Homo sapiens: one gene and its partners. The protein of the gene in region 2 purifies or fractionates together with the protein of the main gene of each other region. This does not show direct contact. Each region holds a gene or a part of one and is shown on either strand. Other genes may lie near its edges.

The links. The genes of interacting proteins can lie anywhere in the genome.
Region 1: the proteins of ARID5B (region 2) and C16orf87 purify together in Homo sapiens (co-immunoprecipitation; 3 studies listed by BioGRID and IntAct, with this or other methods). This does not show direct contact.
Region 3: the proteins of ARID5B (region 2) and MIER1 purify together in Homo sapiens (co-immunoprecipitation; 2 studies listed by BioGRID and IntAct, with this or other methods). This does not show direct contact.

The regions. Positions count from the first base shown.
Region 1 is NC_000016.10:46,807,181-46,814,208, reverse strand, and holds part of C16orf87 (UPF0547 protein C16orf87), read left to right. Parts: intron 1-4,423; coding exon 4,424-4,606; intron 4,607-6,074; exon of another isoform or gene 6,075-6,240; intron 6,241-7,028.
Region 2 is NC_000010.11:61,904,699-61,911,726, forward strand, and holds part of ARID5B (AT-rich interactive domain-containing protein 5B), read left to right. Parts: intron 1-7,028. UniProt on the Homo sapiens protein: Transcription coactivator that binds to the 5'-AATA[CT]-3' core sequence and plays a key role in adipogenesis and liver development.
Region 3 is NC_000001.11:66,969,962-66,976,989, reverse strand, and holds part of MIER1 (mesoderm induction early response protein 1), read right to left. Parts: intron 6,183-7,028; coding exon 6,031-6,182; intron 5,336-6,030; coding exon 5,254-5,335; intron 4,094-5,253; coding exon 3,999-4,093; exon of another isoform or gene 1,472-3,998; intron 396-1,471; coding exon 268-395; intron 1-267. UniProt on the Homo sapiens protein: Transcriptional repressor regulating the expression of a number of genes including SP1 target genes. Probably functions through recruitment of HDAC1 a histone deacetylase involved in chromatin silencing.

The DNA.
Region 1 (7,028 bases), on a different chromosome or scaffold from region 2:
TTACTCCTATTTTTGGATTGTAGTTTATTTTATTCTTGTTTCTTATCAGAACCATCAGGTTGCCAGTTTGCTGAAATTCTGTAATTTTGGGTCATTAATAGTACCTTTTTCTTGTTTCCAGCACCACAGATATATTTTCCTTTTTCTCCTTCCCCTCTTCCCATGTTTCTTCTCATTCAATGGGATTTTGAGAAGGTGGTAAGGTAAATGTGTGTCCTATCCGATTTTATTTATTCAACAGTCTGTGTAAGTAATGTTCTGGGTTCTGCAAATAAGGTAGGCCAAGGATTCCCAAGTTTCATAAAGCCTATATTTTGATGGAGGAGACGCATTGAGCATATAAGTAAATAAATAACAGATTATAGCTGTAGTAGATTACAGGAAGTAACTTGGGCTGGGAGAATCAGAGCAAGTGACCTGTATATGGATATCTGAAGAGAAAAAAAGGCTTATCTTATGAAGAGCCGTGGGAAGAGAGCTCTAGGCAGAAGGATTAGCGTATACATAGACTCAGCGGAGGAAGGAGCTCGTTTTATTAAAAGAAAGGCACGTCTGGAGTGTAGTGAACAAAGTGGTGAGCTTGAGCATCATGAGACTGGAGAAAGAGGCAAATGCCAGATCTGTTGGGGACTTGTCTTTGGTAAGGAATTTTTAGTTTAAATATGGAAAAAAGCTTATGAAAGGCTTTAGAAGGGAAGCTATGCAGTTTGATTTTTTTTTTTTTTTTTTTAAGATAATATTGGCTGGTACGTAGAGAATAGGTTTGACTGGGATGTTGCCTGTGGAGGTGGAGAGAAATGAAGAGATTATGGGTATATTTTGCAAGGAGTATCTGTGGACCTTAGCGATGGTACAGGAAGCAAGATGAGTCACAAACGACTACAAGTTATTTGACTAGTACAACCAGGTGATGCTATTTACTAATATGATGAAAGTAGTAGGAGTAACAGATTTGGGAGAGGGAGAACCAAGAGTTATTTTTTGATACAATTTGAAATGCCTTTGAGACATTCAAGTGAAGTTGTCAGGTAGGCAGTCTAGAGTTTAGGGAAGAAATCAGAGCAGAAGGTGAAAACTTTGGAGCCATCATAACAATAGTGTTTAATGCTGTGGGTTTACGAGATGATCTAGGCAAAGTCTAAGTAAGAGAAGAGGGCTCTGGACAGAATCCTGGGGCCTTGACGTTAGATTGGGAAAGCACCTAGGGGAAGGGCACACAGCAAAGGCGATTAGGAGGAGTGACTGATGAGGTGAAGAAACTGGGGGAGCCTGAGAATCAAGCAAAATAATTTCAAGGAAAGTAGTAGTCATCTTTGTTGAATTTTTGAGAGATGGTGTAAGATGGTAAGTGAGGTGTCTATTAAGATTTGGTAACAGGTTTTTGTTGTTTTTGACAGTCAGTTTCAGTGGGATAGGAACTATACTGGAATAGATTTGATGAGTGAATGGGAGATGAAAAACTGAAGGCAGAAAGTACAGGTACCTCTTTTGAGAAGTTTGGCTGTGAAGAAGTTTGCAGAGATGACTGGGTAGCTGGGGGAACAAACCCAAATTCAGTGTTAGACTTTAATAGGCATACTATTTAAAGCTTCATCTATCACTAGTTCTTTTAACCTTTATTTTTTTGAGAAATTCTAAGCATATGCAAAAGTAGAAAATGACCAACCCTGCCCCATCCACAATCCTGTCTACCTCTTCCTTTGCATCATTTTGAAGCAAATCCCATATAATTTCAGTTATAAATATTTCATTATGTTTCCAAAAGATGAACATTAAAAAATGTAAGCACAATGCCATTATAACATAAAAAATTAATGATAATTTCTTATTAATAAATATCCGACTTGTGTTCACATTTTCACTTTTCTCAAAAATTGTCTTAGAATTTTAAAAACAGATTTTAAATAAGGTCCACAAATTGCATATGGGTGCTATCTTATTTATTTATTTATTTATTTATTTATTGAGACAGAGTCTCGCTCTGTCACCCAGGCTGGAGTGCAGTGGCACGATCTCAGCTCACTGCAGCCTCTTCCTCCTGGGTTCAAACAATTCTCATGTCTTGGCCTCCTGAGTAGTTGGGACTACAGGCGCACACCACCATGCCTGGCTAATTTGTATATTTTCAGTAGAGATGGGGTTTCATCATGTTGGCTAGGCTGGTCTCGAACTCCTGAACTCAGGTGATCCGCCCCCTTTGGCCTCCCAAGGTGCTGGGATTACAGGCGTGAGCCACCACACCCTGTCATTTGTTTAAGAACAGGGTGTCGCTTTGTCACCCAGGCTGAGACAGGGTCTTGCTATGTGGCCCAGGCTGGTCTCAAACTCCTGGCCTCAAGCAATACTCTTGCCTCGGCCTCCCAAATGCCTAAAGTGCTTTTGGATTACAAGCATGAGCTACTGAGCCTGGCTAGATTATATCTTTTTTAACCCTCTTATTATCTATTATTTTCTCTTTTTCTCCTTGCAAGTTAGATGTTGAAGAAATGGCATCACCTGTCCATTTGTATGTGCTGTTTGTATCCCCATGGTGTCACTTAACATATTCCTTGAATAACCTCTTTTTCCTATTAGTTGTAAGTTAGATCTAAGGGCTGGAGAGATTGGAATTTTTTTTTTTTTACAAGACTACTTAATAGGTAGTGATGTGTACCTCTATCCAGAGGTGCTTAAAGTCTGCTTCTCTCTCTCTTTTTTTTTTTTTTTGAGATGGAGTTCATTTTTGTTGCTCATGCTGTAATACAATGGTGCTATCTCAGCTCACCACAACCTCTGCCTCCTAGGTTCTAACGATTCTCCTGTCTCAGCCTCCCAAGTAGCTGGGATTACAGACACGTGCCACCACACCCAGCTAATTTTGTATTTTTAGTAGAGACGGGGTTTTGCCATGTTGGTCAGGCTGGTCTCGAACTCCTGACCTCAGGTGATCCACCCGCCTTGGCTACCCAAAGTGCTAGGATTATGGGTGTGAGCCACCGCGCCTGGCCTGCTTCTCTCTTTTAGTGATGTTAGTACCTGCTGATGTTTAGTGCTTAGAACCTTTAGTTCATTGCAGGTTGAAAAATGTTGATACTCTGATTCTGTCATTCCTTCTTCATTTATTAGCTTTAATATGAGAAACCTCTTCATTTGCCCTTTGGTTACCCCGTGAGTAGCACAGTTTAAATAGAAAAAGCAGAAGAAATGCTTTGTTCTTGCCCTATATTTAAGTTTTCAAAGTAATGAGTTGGTTCTTTAGTATCTTCGTATGGTGGCCAAGTAGTTTTTGTTTTTAATGTTAATGTACTCATATGCTTGATATATTTCAATCTGTTACAGTTACTATTTTTATTGATGCTCAAATTGTCCTGTAATAGTGGGAGCCTCTTCATGTTAGCCCAAGTCTTAACAACACCCTGCTTGTCTTTGATAACTTTCTTGCAATCTGGGATAATTAAATATTCTTGTATTATCTGGTATATGTCTAATTTGAAACTTCAGATTAATTCTCCAAGGATATGGTGTTTGGGGATAATATTACTATTTTACTTTTAATTTTTTTACAGCAGTCTATTAAGCATACTTATTTTATAGTCTTTCACATTGTTCCCTTTAGTTCTTTGGATATGAATTTTTCTGTTTGTTTTGCCCCTTTACCACTGAGATTTTTGGCATTTGGGGAATTCTCTTTCTTGCTTTTGAGTGCAGGTATGTGTTAAAGCAAGGTATCATCTTTTTTGTTTTTGTTTTGTTTTTTTCTTTAAGTTTATTGTTTGTCTTATCCAACATTTTGATTTGTTTAGAGTGGGAGGGGTGGCTTCTTGCACTAATTAAATCACCATATTTAGTAAAGTTTCCCTATTGCTATTCCATTTATGGAACAACATGCTCTTATATCAGAAATTACCTTATCTGTGGCTAAAGTGAAAATTACTCACTTGCCTAGGGTTTTTATATTTGTTATGGATGCTTTCTGTTTGATTTTTATTGTAACCTTAATACGTTATCTCTAAGATCAGTTTTGCTTTTGCATATTTCACATATTTTAATCTTTAACTCAGGTAGAGGGCAAAAGGGCATGCAGTTTTTTTCCTTTCTTAATATTTCACTATTTTTAGCTTGGAAACAGGAAGAAAAAGGCAGAAAGGTTGCTATGGAATTGTGTGAACTTGTAGAGGCTGAAATTTAAGCTGCCAAATGAAGAAACTTGTTTTCTCTTCCAAGATTCCTCCTACTTCATGTGTTATTGTGATCTGAATTCTATTGAATTTCTTTTTTTCTTATGAGGGTGTGGGGGAGACATATATGTTATGGTTGTAGTTCTATGAAATATGCCAGGAAGCATACTCTAGTGCTATTTAGAAAGAAAAAGGAAGACAATGAGAACTTGGGCAAACAGTTCTTGCTAAGCCCTAAAATATATCACTTTTATTCATCCATACAGAAAACAAGCATGAGGCCAAGAGGAGGCGAACAGAGAGAGTTAGGAGAGAGAAGATAAATTCTACAGTAAATAAAGATTTAGAAAACAGAAAGAGGTCTCGAAGTAACAGCCATTCAGATCATATCAGACGAGGAAGAGGAAGACCTAAAAGTGCATCTGCCAAAAAACATGAGGAAGAAAGAGGTATGAACAAATCAAGCAGTTTTTTTTTCAAGTATTAAATTGATCTGGGATCTTAATTAGGTAGTAGTGAAGAAAGTGGAGGCATTGAGCTCCTGGACTTAAAAATCACAACTCATATTTTAGTTTGAAAGCATTTCCTCTGTGGTAGATGCTTATTATTTTTTTAATCACAGGAATTTAATTCTTATTGGAAACCTGAAGGCTTAGTTAGGTAAAATTTACCTTGCTATAAACTGATGATAATAGAGTTCAAAGATAATTTGTATATGACATCCTGAAGAAGCCTGTTAAAATGATTGTACTTTTTTTTTTTTTTGAGACAGCGTGTTGTTCTGTCACCCAGGCTGGAGTGCAGTGGCGCGGTCATGGCTCACTGCAGCCTTAAACTCCAGGGCTCCGGTGATTCTCCCCTGAGCCTCCTGAGTAGCTGGGACTACAGGTGTGCACCATCATGCCTAGCTAATTTTTTGTAGAGGGGGGTTTCACCATGTTGCCCAGGCTAGTCTTGAACTTCTGGGCTCAAGCAATCTGCCCTCCTTGGCCTCCCAAAGTGTTGGGACCTCTTTTTTTTTTTTTTTTTTTTGTCTTTTAAAGACATGTCTGAGTTCTGTTAAGACTACTTCAAACTATTATACTGTGAGTTTTAAAATTTTACTATTGAAAGTGTTGTTGGTGGAGTTTTTAATTGCTCATTGGGAGATTTGTGTGCTTCCTACTCTGAGGCAGCTTTTGCATAGATGAATTCTTCTTGGTCCAGAGTATATTTCTTTTTCTCCTTACAGGTCTTCTTTCTTCTGACGAATATCTACCAATAGCTTGTTTTTAGACATTAAAACTTCAGTTTCTCTTTTTCTTTGATTTATGCATCTTTTTAAAAACTTACAGAAAATTTCAACATATGCAAGAGTAGAGAAAATAGTATAATGAACCTCTCTATGTCCACAAATACCTTTTTAAAATTGAGACTTTCAAGCTGGTAGTTAATTTAAAAAAGGGATAGTTGCTCTTTATTGTTCTTTAAAAACCTCTGTCAAAATGATTTCATCTTCACTGAAATGCATTTTTAATTTCTTACACTATTTGTGAGTTATGCTTTGCTTTTCAGACGTTCTGTCTTAGATACTCAAGTGCTTTTTGTATAAATGTAAATTTCACTTATTTTAGACAATAAGACCATTCTACCAGTTTGCTATTTCTCTCTGCTTTATGTGCTTTTATTTGAATAAAGTTACTATTGCTAGAAAACAGCTTCACCAGTATAGCCATTCCTAGCTTTTATCAAAGTTAAAGGTGTCTTAGTATTGTATGGCTAAAGGAGTAAGGTTTATATCGGTTTTGACTGTATTCTAGGAAGGCTGTACTAAGGTACTCCATATTCCTTGGGTAATTTTACTGCTTTTCTCTTTCTATTATGCTCTTCCAGAGGGTTTGAGTTATTTGTTAAATTTGTATGTTTCTTTAACAATAGGGTGCAGAAAACCTATGCCGAGGACTCCTATTTTAGAAGGGAAACTAGGTAAAGAAAAGTCAGCAGAGAAAAAGGAAAAGAGAGAAATACTGCCTGGCTCAGAAAACAACATTCTTTTCAGTTGAAATAGAGGGAATGCAGCTGAAAGAAGAGAATGCTTCTGGTGGTGGGTGAGAGAAGATGAGAAAGCAGATAATGACCATCTTTAGCTGGGGAAATGAAGTCTATATACTTGTGGTAGAACTGTATATATGCAGGATTTCAGCTTTTATTTCATGATTACATGAAAAAAGAAGCATTTGTTTAGCTGTAAATATTTTTTAGGCATTTTCTGTTTATTACAGAAAAATTTTAAGAAAGCTATTTCTAGAGTAAGATATGCTTTTTTTTGTTTTTGATACAAATTGTAGGAAATTACTTAAATTAATTTTTGTAGCACAAACTGGAATCTTATGTAGACCATGAAGTCATTACACTTTTTCTGTAAAGAGCCAGATAGTAAATGTTCTAGGCTTTGTGGGCCATACTATCTCTGTCACAACTACTCAGCTCTGCCATTGTAGCTGGAAAGCAGCCATAAATCATGCATAAATGAATGGGCATGCCTGTGTTCCAGTAATACTTTATAAAGCAGGTGGTGGGCCACATTTGTTACTTGTACTATAGTTTGCCAATCTCTTTCTTTCTTTTCTTTCCTTGCTTTTTTTTTTTTCCTTCTGAGATAGCGTCTCACTCTGTTACCCAGGCTGGAGTGCAGTGGAGTGATCATGGCTTACTTCAGCCTCAAACTCCTGGGCTCAAGCGATCCTCCTGCCTCAGGTGCATGCCACCACACCAGGCTACTTTTTTTACTTTTAGTATAAATGAGGTCTCACTATGTTGCTCAGGCTGGTCTCAAACTCCTGGGCTCAAGGGATCCTTTCAGCTTGGCTTTCCAAAGTGCTGGGATTGCAG
Region 2 (7,028 bases):
TTATACTTGTATATTTCATTAGGACTTTGGCTGATGTCATTGTGAATTATTCAGCCATATTAAAACAATTTTCAATTGAGATAATGACACGCCTCAAAATTATGCAAATGCAGACTGCATTGTGCAAAATAATTATGACAAATGTAAAGCAGGTAGAAAGTTTCCCAATGCAGATCGGTTTTCCACCCTGGTGATGTCATTTCCCCCCTGGCCTAAGTTAGTCATTCATTAGCAGAATAGCAGCAGCAGTCTTCTCTGGAGGAGAGCCTTACAGAAACCAGCATTTACTGCTGGCACCTAGAGGGGGCAACAGGGCCCTCTCATTAAGAAATTTGCTTTGTTTTCACTTATTCCATTAACTTGTTTATATACATTTAAATGATTTTTATTATTGATTTTAAATAGTTTTGAATGATGCATTTGCCATTTGCAATGTGTAACTGAAAGAGAAAGGTTTCTTGGTGATATGCACTGTTACTTGGAGAAAATGTTCAGCACATTTAATCAGCCAGTACAGTTTATTTTAAGTAACCAAATGGAGATTAATAATTTCTTGATTGAGCTGACATCAGCATCCATTTCGAAAGGACAGCCAGGACTCAGTATGCTTTTTTTGGTTTAAGAGAATCATTCTGCCTTTTTATGATTTCTTGAAATGTAAAGACGTCAGTTCTAAAAGCAGAAAAATGATCATTGTGCAAGATTAGAAATAGCGTCCCTGTGTGGTTTGCTGTGATTTGCAGAGGGTTTTTTTTTTTTTGGAATATTTTCTCATGATTTTTGTAATAAATTGTGGGAGGCTGGATAAGGCAGGACTTTGTACACCCATTTTACAGATGGGGACATAGACTCGGAAAGGTTATGTGGTTTGTCAAAGGTCACCAGGCTAGAACCCAGGCCTCCTTGAAATTCAAGGTTATCTTTTCTCCCCAGTGAAACCTACCCTTGAAAGCAGAGCTTGAATTCATCATATTACATTCTAGAAGTGTGTACTAATGTGAACAGTCCCTCAGACATTTTAGAATTGTAACTAGTTAATCAGTTTTGCCAAAGGTCACCAGATGTCTAGGTAGCAAAACTATCCTTATCCTGTAAAGTTAAGCTAATTCTAATCAGTGGTATATAATGATAACAGTTATATTTTAATAGTTATTAATGAGCATTAACAACTTACTATTCATTTTAATGATGATGGTGATGATTTATATGCTTATATACACCAATGCCTTCATATATAATACTTCCAGTGTTCGCAACTGGTGTTGAGGAAAAGCATTCAAGAAAGTCACATTTTGATTCTGCAGCTTGCTATTTGCTTAATCTTGAACAACCATAAGTACTTGGAACCTCAGTTTCTTCAGCTGCAAAATGGGAACAAAGTAGGGATGACTATAGATTGTTGGTGAAGATCAAGAGGATTTATAGGCAAAAGAGCTTTATATACTATAAAGTACTTAAATAAATAGAAAATAATTATGATTATAGTGACCTTTGTTCTAGATATTCTTAATTTTATAAACAATAAAAAAAAAACTTGTGTCTGTGTGGAGGTTCTTGGACCTAAAAATGATACCATCTTAAATTACCATGAAAATGAATAGCAGGGCCATGTGCAAGGAGTTAAGTGTCTTTAGTAATTACTTAGAATTGCCACATTCAGCCACTAGCTCTTCAGAGGAGGAAAATGGCAAAGTAGGCGGGTAATTGGTTCTGTTACTGGATAACTTCTGATTACATTCATTTTCCAATTGCCAAGTGCTTAATCTATTGGCAGTATACCCTCTTAAAATGGGTGGATATGCAAGCTTGGATTTCAGCCTGACCAGCCATCGCTGGGATTTTATAAGAAGGTTTGCTGGTCACCTCCAACTGTGCTTGTGGATGGCTAAGCTAATGATGTCCAGGAGTCAAGATCAGGCATACCTGGATGTTACAGATTCTAGCATGCATTCCAGATTTCTAAAAGTGATTCAGTTATCACCAGCCTCACTACTGAATTAAAAAATGCTAAAAATCCATGTTCTGGGGCCCCTATTGAAGTCTCCTCAAATAGAATCTCTAGAGTTGGGTCCAGGAGTCTGAATTTTAAATATTTAAACAGTCTCAGTCTAGCTGTGTTATCTTGGGCAAGTTCTAAACTCTCTGTGCCTCCGTTTTCTCATCTGTAAAGTGGAAATACGGTCCTTATTTCCTAGGATTATTTTAAGGATTAAATAAGTTAATATATGTAAAATGCATATGCCCAAAGTTGACACATAGTAGATACTTCAATAATGGTTGACTGTTGTTATTATCATTAATATTAGCATTAATCTCACTGAGGTTTGAAACCACTACCATGGAGCTTACTGAAAAGTTTTTCCGTGTGAGGGAATGGCACCTAGGTGAGTTTGCTAGGACATGTGGGCTTCCAAATCCTACCGAATCAGGCTATCTTTCATCTCCATGTTGGCTTTAGCTGTGTCACCAAAATAAAAAGTGTCTTAAGGATTTACATTTTAGTGCAGAAGTAAACTGTCAACTGGATCAGCAGGATTTTTTTTTTCAAAAGATTGCCTGATTTGGTCATATCTGGAGTTAGACAGACACATTCTGGAATTTAGAAGGTGCTGGATTAGTCTTGCTCTTCTCTTTGGATAGCTCCTCAGTCTTGGTCTATATCCATAAGGTAATTTTTTAGAGATTTCTGAGACCTCTTAAATGACCACACTGGCCTTAGACAATTGTTTTAACTTTTTTAAGCCTCTGTTTCTTCCTCTGTAAAATGGATTTAATGGCCTCAACTGTGCTGGGAATCAGAGATAATAATGAAAAGGGTCTGGAATCTAGCATAGTATAGTACCTACACATGAGAGTTCAATGAATAGTGGTTGCACTTATAATAGTTATTATTTATTTTTAGTAATCATCTTAAGCTAAGAAAAGGATTTATCTTTACTCTCTACCAAGCAGGCCTTTTAGAACAAAGATAAGAATGTAAAGAATTACATGGAGAGAAATTACTGGACTGTGACAAGAGTCAGCCAAGTAAGGCCTGAAGGCCAAATCTGGCCCACTGTCTGTTTTTGTGAATAAAGTTTTATTGGAATGTGGCCATGCTAATTTGTTTATGGCTGCTCTCAGGCTCCAACAGCAGAGTTGAGTTGTTTTGACAGTTACCAGATCGCTGACAAAGTAGAAATATTTATTATCTGGCTTTGTTAAGAAAAACGTTGCTGACCCCTGGCCTATGCGGTTGATCTGCAATAAGGTAGATGATTGTGTACCTATTTTTCTTTCTTGAGTTTTGGCCATTAACCAGTAATAGCAGAAATATAAGAAACTTAAGTAATATAAGAAATTGTACTTCAATATTATATCATTAACGTTTACATATCCAATCCAATTTCACCATTGGTTCTAGGACATTAAAATTTGAGAATGAGTGAAATAATATTAAATTATATTTTGTATGGTTAAGAGCGAAACTTTAGCCAATATTAGTATTGTCTATTTTGAGTTAATAAAAAACTACTCGTGAAGTTCTATGTGCTCAGTACTCTGCTAGGTGAAGAGACAGATGCAAAATAGTTTGCGATGTGACCCTTTTTCTGAATAAATTTATCAGTCTTGATAAGGAGATGAGATCAACATGTCTAAAAATGTAAAAGCAATATGAGTCACAACACATCAGTAAATTGTGCTGATAATACATGTCATAGGCATCCAAAGGAAGGCTCCCAACCATCATGTTTTTTGGAAAAAGAATTCATTAAATTTCTCAGATGTTGATTGAAAACCTACTGTGTGCTGGCACTTGGATACAAGAGATTAAGGAGAATGGCCTCGGCCAGGCATAGTGGCTCACGCCTGTAATCCCAGCACTTTGAGAGGCCGAGGCAGGCAGATCACGAGATTGAGAACATCCTGGCTAACATGGTGAAACCCCGTCTCTACTAAAAATACAAAAAAATTAGCTGGGCGTGGTGGTGGGCACCTGTAGTCCCAGCTACTTGGGAGGCTGAGGCAGGAGAATGGCGTGAACCCGGGAGGCAGAGCTTGCAGTGAGCCAAGATTGCACCACTGCACTCCAGCCTGGGCAACAGAGCAAGACTCCATCTCAAAAAAAAAAAAAAAAAAAAAAAGAAGAAGAAGAATGGCCTCTGCCCTCAAGGAGTTCCCAAACTGCCTTTGTAGACAGACAGTGATCACAGAAAAGGCCATCAGACTCTTTCCATCTGTGTTCCTTAGTTTAAGTTGAGACGAACTGAGATCACTATTTATTTGTAGCATTTCTTAATCTTTCCGGAAATTAGAAAGTACTGTCTTCATCTTTGAATTATTACTTCCTGGACACATATTTGTAGAGCACCTATTATGTGCCAGATCCTATTCTAGGCCCTGGGGATGCAGCATGAACAAGACAGACAAAAATCACTGCTCCCAGGGAGCTTATAGTCCAGTGGTTGGTTGTAACCTGTCGTGCACTTTATACCTTGTGCCTTATAGTTATCTGTGTTCTTTTCCTTTACCTTGTCACCTGACCCTATGCTCCCCCCACCATAGTGCTGTTCTCAGGAGCAGGCAGTTGTGCCTTATTCACCTCTGGGTCCTCTGCAATATTTAGTGCTATTCAGTGAGTTTTTTTTTTTTTTTTTTTTTTTTTGAGACGGAGTCTCGCTCTGTCGCCCAGGCTGGAGTGCAGTGGCGCGATCTCGGCTCACTGCCAGCTCCGCCTCCCGGGTTCACGCCATTCTCCTGCCTCAGCCTCCAGAGTAGCTGGGACTACAGGCGCCAGCCACCGCGGCCGGCTAATTTTTTGTATTTTTAGTAAAGACGGGGTTTCACCATGTTGGCCAGGATGGTCCCGATCTCCTGACCTCGTGATCCACCCGCCTTGGCCTCCCAAAGTGCTGGGATTACAGGCGTCAGCCACCGCGCCTGGCCTTCAGTGAGTATTTTCTGAGTGACTGAACGACATAATTAAAATGCCTTCTTGCACACAGTCTACCTTTTTTAAGCTTTACCCAGTTTCTTTCTGGCAGATGACCAGTGACCAGTCATTCACATGTGGGCCAGATCCACGACCCCATCTCACACTTCTTCTTTCTCTTCCAAAGTCTGTAGTCATTTTGCACTGTAGAATGTGAAAACATGGGAAGTGGTTTTTTCACAGGGGCACTCACCAAAGAAACAAGCAAATATTTGAAAGATTAGACTGGAGGCAGCATCTCTGTTTCGTTGTTAATTTTCCAGTCTCAGCAGTCAACCCATAAAAAGTCAGGGCTTTGGGGTGGCAACCTATGAAAAGACTAGACTTCAGGAAAGAAGATTCACTCCTCGCCTGGTGTTGGTTGGCAGTTCATACGAGCCAGCATGTTTTTCAGGCTGATGGTCTTAACTAAGCCACATGTTTGATAGTGCCTCACAATTGTAAGCAATTAAAACCTCTCGACAATTAGACTGTCAGACACATACTAAGGAAATGTTATTTTTATGAAATACAAGAGTCCATACATGTAAATACTTCATTATTAATTATTAATAAAGCATGCCATTGTTCATAGTGGCATCTAGTGATATATGACTCAAGCTCATTTATCAAAGTCTAGTTTTAACCAATATCCAGAATATAATTGCTTGAACCAAATGCATTCACTTGTCATTTTTTATAGCCAGTGTAGTTGGATATTTGCCATCTTCTACTCAGAATAATACTGTAGCTAGTGACTACCCGTTGCCTTGGCTTTTAAGGAAATTTAAAACAAATTTATCGATTGTTGGCTTAAGGATTCATTCACCTCTCAGAGATGTGGTCATGGATTCCCTCATTTCTTGAAGAATCTACACTGCACAAATCCAAGGATGCATTTTTCTGGCCACGCTGTGTTCCTCACTGACTTGCTGGAGATGAGAACCTTGGTCTTAGCCCTCCAGCATACATCCCTCATGCCCTGGACTATGAGCATCAGTATCGACAACACATTTCAAACATGCAGATGATGATGATTATTGAAAGGGTGCTTTAGAATCATGCTAATGGCATCAATCTCTCGCACACACTTGGGTAAATTAATTCTGCTTTTAAAATCAGATGCACTGTTAGCAGCGTTAAAGATGGATATTTGACATTTATCACGCAGACTAGGATGGGTGGTTTAATTACGCGAATTTTCTGTAGGATCTTTGTGGCTGTATAAATAGACGCACAGTGGCGTGTGTCCTTGGCATATGACCATCAGGTTCACAGTCACATCTCCATTCCTGTGCCCCAGTAAGAACCCCAGGCGGCAAAGGCCAAATGTTGCTAGTCAATCTAGTGACCCCATAAACATCTTTTCCCCCACCTTTCTTTTCTCATGACTCCAAGCACACCCGGGCTATGAAACACCCCTTCCACCCCATAGTTGAGTTCCAAGCCTCATCAGTGGCACTAAACATTAAACTCTTGTCTTTGAGAATAATGGGCTTTGCTTTCTACACCCTCAAGCATGTTGAGCTACTGTGCAAGCTGGAAAATAAAAATGTTCTAATTGTGTCTTTTAAATAAGCATAGGAGTGAATTAATTAGACCATATTTTGTCTTTAGTTGCTTAGTTACACAATAGTATTCCTGAGCACGAGTAAGATAAATTGGCTCTTTTTGTGCTGCTTGTCCCTTAATCATAATTACTGTATTGCTTAGGAGAGTAAAGCATACATAGATTTTGAATTTTTTATTAATAGTCAAAAATATGCATATGATATATAAAGTATATGCTGTTCAACCTGTTTTATATGTGGGAAGAAGTTTTATTGTGGTGGTAACATTTGCATTAGTTGCTCAAAGATGTAGTTCTGGGAAATACATAATTGAAATGTTTTTGAATTGCTTTTTCTGGCCTTTTCAATCTTATTCAAAATAATAGTGCTTCCAGTCCTGGAGTAGTCATTCTCATTTGATTTAACATCTTTCTTTGCACTGCACGAGCGGCACCCAGTTTTAACCCTGCAGAGCCTAGATGAAGTTCTGTGATTCATAGGCCATACATTGTGCCTTATGTTTTTTG
Region 3 (7,028 bases), on a different chromosome or scaffold from region 2:
TAATGATATGCTTGTCTCATACATAATATGAACTGTAGTTTACAATATTTCATAAGACACTGAAAAGTCTAAATGCCTTATTTATGAAGATATAATAGATGGTAAAGTTTAATGTGTATTATAAAAGCAAGATTTTATCACTCTCGGCCTTCTGGTTAAGATCAAGTATATAAAAGCAAGATTATCAAAATAATAATTAACTCAAGAAAAATCTAGAAAAGCTTAGCAAAAATGTATATATAGCTCTTAAGGAAAAAATTAACTCACGTTACACCAGGATGAAGATTATATTTCTTCTTTCCAAATCGTGTTTGCTGAGCAAAGAAATCATAACGTTCAGATTTTTTCCACATGTAATAGAATGCTACACATTCACCAACTGACCTTGTTCGGACCTGTAAGAAACAAATGCTTGCTTTTAAGAATCTCCTTTTTAACAAAGTTACTTCATGATAAACATCTGAAGTTTGAAAATAAATTTGGCTAGTCCTTAACTGAAATATAATCCTATATATAACATACAACAGTGTAGCAGCTATGTTGAAAGCTATTCTTTCTAAACATCTATTAAGAGAAATAATATATTGGCAACAGGTCTTCAGATATACAGCACTGTGCTTTTTAAAATGCTACCATCATCCTAATTTACTAGAAAAATATATTCCTGTATTAAAAATGCTTGGAAGTTGGCCGGGCACGGTGGCTCACGCCTGTAATCCCAGCACTTTGGGAGGCCAAGGGGGGTGGATCACGAGGTCAGGAGTTCAAGACCAGCCTGGCCAAGATGGTGAAACCCCATCTCTACTAAAAATACAAAAATTAGCCGGGCATGGTGGCAGGTGCCTGTAATCCCAGCTACTCGGGAGGCTGAGGCAGGAGAATCACTTGAACCCCAGCAGGGGGTGGGGGTGGGGGCAGAGGCTGCATTAAGCTGAGATCACACCACTGCACTCCCACCTGGGTGACAGAATGAGACTCAGTCTCACACACACACACACAAAAAAAAGGCCTGGAAGTGGCATTCATGTTAAAATAAATGTTATAAACAGTTTGCTAATACTTTTACTCACAGAGTACGGGTACCTAGGGAGCGTATCTTTAAATTCCCTTTTGAAAGATTCTCTTACTAGTCCCAACAGCAACCCAGACTCAGTTAATTTACTCTCTAGAAAGTCTGGGAAGATGCCACAGTGAGTTAAAAGTATCATAATAATGCTAATGCTTTGTTTACTAAGTTACTCTTGCGGCTTACTGTGCTGTACCTATTTGTGCAACTGAATGGCTCCCCTCACATAATGTTAAATGCCTACGGAATTAAATGATGCTGACAGAATTCCTTTTTGTTACTTAGCCGGGAGAACTGGTGGTAGGGTTGATGTATATATATAAAATACTGAGGATTTAGGGCTGATGTATATAAATAAAATACTGATAACTTTTTTCCTTTCTTTTTCTTTTTTTTTTGAGATAGTGTCATGCTCTGTTGCCCAGGCTGGAGTACAGTGGCACCAAACCGCTAACTGCAGCCTTGCCCTCCCAGGCTCAAGCAATCCTCCTGCCTCAGCACCCTCAATAACTGGGACCACAATTGCATGCCACCAAACTCAGGTAATTTTTCTATTTTTTGTAGAGATGGGGTTTTGCCATGTTGCCTAGGCTGTTCTTGAACTCCCAGGCTCAAGCAATCTGCATGCTTCAACCTCCCAAAGTACTGAGATAACAGGCATGAGCCACTGCACCGGCAATACTGACCATTTAAAAGGAAATCCAGTGTCTGTATGTGTTCTGGATGCAATATACTTCTTTATCCCATAAATTTCTGCTCTTGAAGTAAATATTCTGTAGCACTGATTGCACCTAAAGGACAAATGTTGATGATACCCTCCCTTACCCAACATATATTTTGCTTTCTTCCCGTTTGCACTGTACAGCTCTGATCCATATTGCTCTGAGACTGACAGCAATCAGGACTTTAAAAAAAATCATCCTCTCAAGCTGTTTTTTGTCTCCTCTAGGATCTTATTTCTAGATAGATTCGAACTAAGTCAACTGTACTTTACTGAAAGCAAAAAGATAAAGTCATTTTGGGGCATGCAAAGTTAAGATTATGAAAAATCTTCAACAAAAGCCCTCAAAATAGAACTTATGATTAAGATCTGAACTTTAATTCCAGACATAAAAACAAACTCGATATTCTCACTAGAGTACTCGTCTCCCTTTTAAAGAATTACTGTCCTCTTTTTGTGCACTAGAGTAATTTAGTGTATTATGTAGAGGTCAGCTGACTTCTACCTTGTAACATTTAAATGCCACTGTCCCAAATATTTATGAGAAATCAAGGTTATACTTTTAATACTTATGTTACTTGGCTCTAAGTTTCAAGTCACCTATAATTTCTTAACTCCTTTAAAAAAATCATATTGGTCAGGGTTGTTGCTGCTGCTTGTTACATAAGCTATCATTCCAGGGGTCCCTTCCTTAGGTAATTCAGCATGGTTTGGTTAAGAGTGTTTTAATTCAAGCAGAAGTGTTAAAAAACAACAACAACAACAACAAAAAAAAAACCTCATCCAAAAATGTTGTCCCTTTCAACCATGAAACAACGAACTTTTTTCTTTTTTAATCAAAAACATACACGGCCAGTCACATAATGCACTCCTTTTCTTGAATGTTAACTATATTTGAGGTTATCAGATGATATGAACACAACATTAGGGGTATACATTTTTGAAACTAATTACATTGTCTTCTAAGTTATCCTAAATGCTAAAACTAAACATTTCTCTATTAGTGTTATCTGCGGTAAACTGCCAACATTCAACAAAATAATTAAGAATGAACTAATTGGGAGTGGGGCTCTTCACTGCCCAGTTCCCACTTAAAAAAAAAATAATAAAAATAAGAATAAACTAGTTAATGCACGACAAAATTTAAGAAATGAACCCACAGGATTTGTAAATATTTTATTAATAACAAAAAATATTAAATATGTGTCAAAAAAATCAACTGGATACAATCCAATCACATCCAAATGTATAAAAAGAGAGCTGTGGCAGAAGACTATTCAGAGCCTCAGACATAAGCCCAGGTACTTTCAACAAGGTCCTGGACAAGCTACGACACAAAACTTAGAAGCTATCTTTAAGGAATTACATAAACCAATACCCTTGTCATTTCTACTAACTAAAAATAATGTGATAATCATAAGCCTGGGAATTAATTTCCTACATTTAATCTCCAAGACTTTAATTCTGCCTGTCCTAATCTGTTGTCCTAATGTGTTGCTCATGGAAACAACACATTTTTCTATTCTATATAATTATATGGTTACTATTAAAAATCATACCTAATTTCAGTTATAAGAATTAAGCCCCAAAACAAATCTGTAAGTAATTATAAAGCTATTTGGAGTATAAATTACATGACTGATATTATCAACATGAAATGATAAATGATTATGTTAAATAAAATCCTCAAATTATAACTATAAGAATATAAAGCTGATTTATCGACACAGAAGCTCCTAGAAAATTAAATGTTGACTAAAACTAAGTTAAATATTAAGTATTTGATTTTAGACCACTCAGGACTTAAGCAAATGTAATAAATATTTTAACTGCAAATAATGTCATATTGAAAGTGCTTTAAAGTTTCCAAATCATTTCAAAGGCCCTCCATAAAACAGTCACAGACTGTGGAAAACAGCTATAAAGAATTGCATTGCACATACACACCCCAACTAGAAGTTGATTAACATGCTTGTAAATGAGTACAATTCTTAAACACCTGCAATATGATGCACTGAAAACAGTCACCAACAGGTAATTATAGGTTAGGAAGTATAGGCAGCCTTACTATAATTACTCACTAAATACCAAAATATTGTCATATTAATTATGAAACCTTTAACACTAGACAATATAACAAATTACGATACATGACCATTTGAGTTGTTCAACTAAATTTCTTTTTGCAAAAAAGAGATTATCATTACTTACTTTATTAGCCTGAATCAAATGAAAATCCTTTCCATAGGCCTTCAGCCCTTGTTCAAAATTTCTACACTCTTCCTCTGTCCAAACAGATAATTCCTCTGACAAGATGGGAGGAACAAACTGTTAAGCAATATTCCCCCAATTATTGCATATAACAAAATTACAAATGAAAACTTAACCTTCTCGTAAAAATGAGGGAAGCATTTTACTCCTGAGCTCTATTACTAATTGTTGCAAAAGATAAAGTGACAACAATTCCTTATTTAATAAGATTTTGAATGATTTGGTCCCTACCTCTCCAGCTTCAACTTGTGCCACTTTCTTCTTAATTCTTACTGATCAAACTATCTCAGCCACCTTTCAATTCCTTAAATTTGCCATGTTCTTTCTTACTTCAGACTTTGTGCATGGTGTCTCTCCTTTGCTTAGAATTATTTCCTGCCTCATCCCCTTTCACTGAGATAATTCTTTTGCATCCCAACAAAAATATTACTTCATTCTGAATGCTTTCCCTAAAAGCACTACCCTCTCTGCAAATAGGTTAAGTCCCATTACTACAGGTTTCAATAGCACCCTCTAATTTTCCTTGAAGAATTCATCAGCTATTTTCCAGTTTCCCTACCTAAGCTCTAAGCACCACGAGGGGAAGGGACTTTGTTTATAGTTACATCCTCAGAATTCAGAAGGCACTCAAATTTTTGTTAAATAAATATCTCTCATTTGTTACATATCTATATATATATATATATATATATATATGTAGTGTATATATATATATGTAGTACTCTTAGTGAAGGGGGGTAGGAGCCAGATATAGTATAAAAAAGAAAAATCCAAATTTTAGTCATGGCTTCATTACTGATGAATTATGTTTGCTTTCGCCAAGTTACTTTAGTTCAGAGATCTCAGGCTCATCAATTTTTACCTTTAAGTAAAGGTATTATCTGTCATACTACCTAGTTCATAGGGCAATTATCAAGATCAAATAAGAAAATATTTATAAATATGCCTTGAATGCATAAGGCAGTATAAATTTTTACATTTTTACTTACATGACTGTATTTTCCCACAAAGGAGGAAGGGACAATCTTAATCCCACTCCCCGTAACGATTTGTTTAGTAATACTTGGTATTTTGTAAATATTTATCAAACTCAGAAAAATCAGTATTATTAAGTTTAGGCTATACCTAGGTAAACTGAAAAGCTTAATTTTAAAATTTCTGCCAAATCATGAAAATGAATAAAAACTATACTTACCTCTAGCTGCTTTTACATTAAATCTTAATCTTCTCAATGCTTCTTCTGTATCAAAATTGCATTTAACCAATTCATATAAAGCCTAGAAAAATAAAAGGCTTGAATATGTGACAAGGACTATAAACAGTTCAATGCTACAATTTCTTAAAAGTTTTTCAAACATCCAGTGTTTTCATCCTTTTTGAGGGCAAATAACTTTAGTGAATGTTATATATAGAGAACTCCAAAGAAAAACAAATATGAATTCGATCCTGATAAATCAACTACCTTTAAATATGTACAAAGTAGGATATGCATAAACTTGGTGGCCATAGTATCCCTAGGACTAAAAAGAATTCATTTTATATCAATGAAAATCCCTTCTTTGTGGCTTCTTGAGATTCCTATAATTTTAAACAAATCAGAAAAAAACAATGATTAAAAAGGTAAAAAAGATAGGTTCATGGTAGGCACTGGTCTTACCATGTACATAAGATAATCCGAGGTGAGAATTCCAACTTGATATACACAGATTCTTAGGGATAGCCAAAGGAATTTTAAAAAGCCTAATGAAAAGTATATACAGGCAAAATAAAACAGGTTTTTGTTTCGTTTTTGAGCTTCACACCAATGAAGTCACTGTGGTAACAACGGATATCTTACAGGGATTATAACCTCAGATTCCCTGTCAATAATGTTATAAAAAGTTTGGTGGACAGAATAACAACAATGCAAGTGACAGCATTTACATGTATAAATGTGTATGGCAAAGTTCTAACAGTTGTTTCTTTCACAGACCTGTTCATTGTCTTTTATGTGAGATCCTTCAGGAATTGCTTCTACACCCTTCTCATCACCTGTTCTTCTAGATGCATCTTTAAGAAATATAATCACTTTATCTTCTGGTAAGTACTCAGGGTCCCACAGGAGCTGATCATCATTTTCATATACTAAATTAGTAAAAGACAATGTTAAACAAATTTCTAAAAACTGATAGAGTTTGTGTTAAAACATATTACTAAATAAACAACTCAGAGCCAAATGTTGAGAACTGAGGTACAGTGTGGTTCTACTACTTGCCTGACTTCGTTCTTGGGCAAAAACTATAGTTTAAGTAAATTAAACAATTTAAACAGAGAGGAGGTACCACTTTATGCCCCCTGCAGATCCAGTCTGACTTTATCTTGAGTTTACCAAATTCCAAGCTCTCTTGGTTGAATACCATCTCTACCACTTATTACATGTATGATGACCTTGGGCAAATTATTTCCCTTCTGTCTCATCTGTGAAAGGAGGTAACAATAACTCTACCACATAGTTTTAAGGATTTAAAGCACTTTACAATCATTCTGGCACATACTAAAATCCTGTAATTGTAACTGTAACTATTATTTTTGAAAATATGTCTAGAAGAATGCTCACCAAATGTTAACACTGCTTAATTCCTGGTGGTGGGATTTGAAGTAAATTTTACTTTATGTTTTCTGTGATGCTTGAGTTGTATAATGTATATAAATCACTTTCACAAAAACAAGTCATTACTTTTTTAAAGGTATTTAAGTTTCATCATAATTTCCATTATAAGAAGATGAAAGCCTAAATCTAATTAAAACTCAAAAAGTAATGAAAGGAGGATGACCTAAGACAAAGCCTGTGGAATTCCAAATGATAAGAAGAAAACATGGATAAAATTCAAAAGTCACAAACAGAAGAAATACCAAGAATGTAACATCACAGATGCTAAGGGAAGAGAGTGTTTCAAAGAATAGCTTCAAAGACTGGTTAAATTCTGTTGA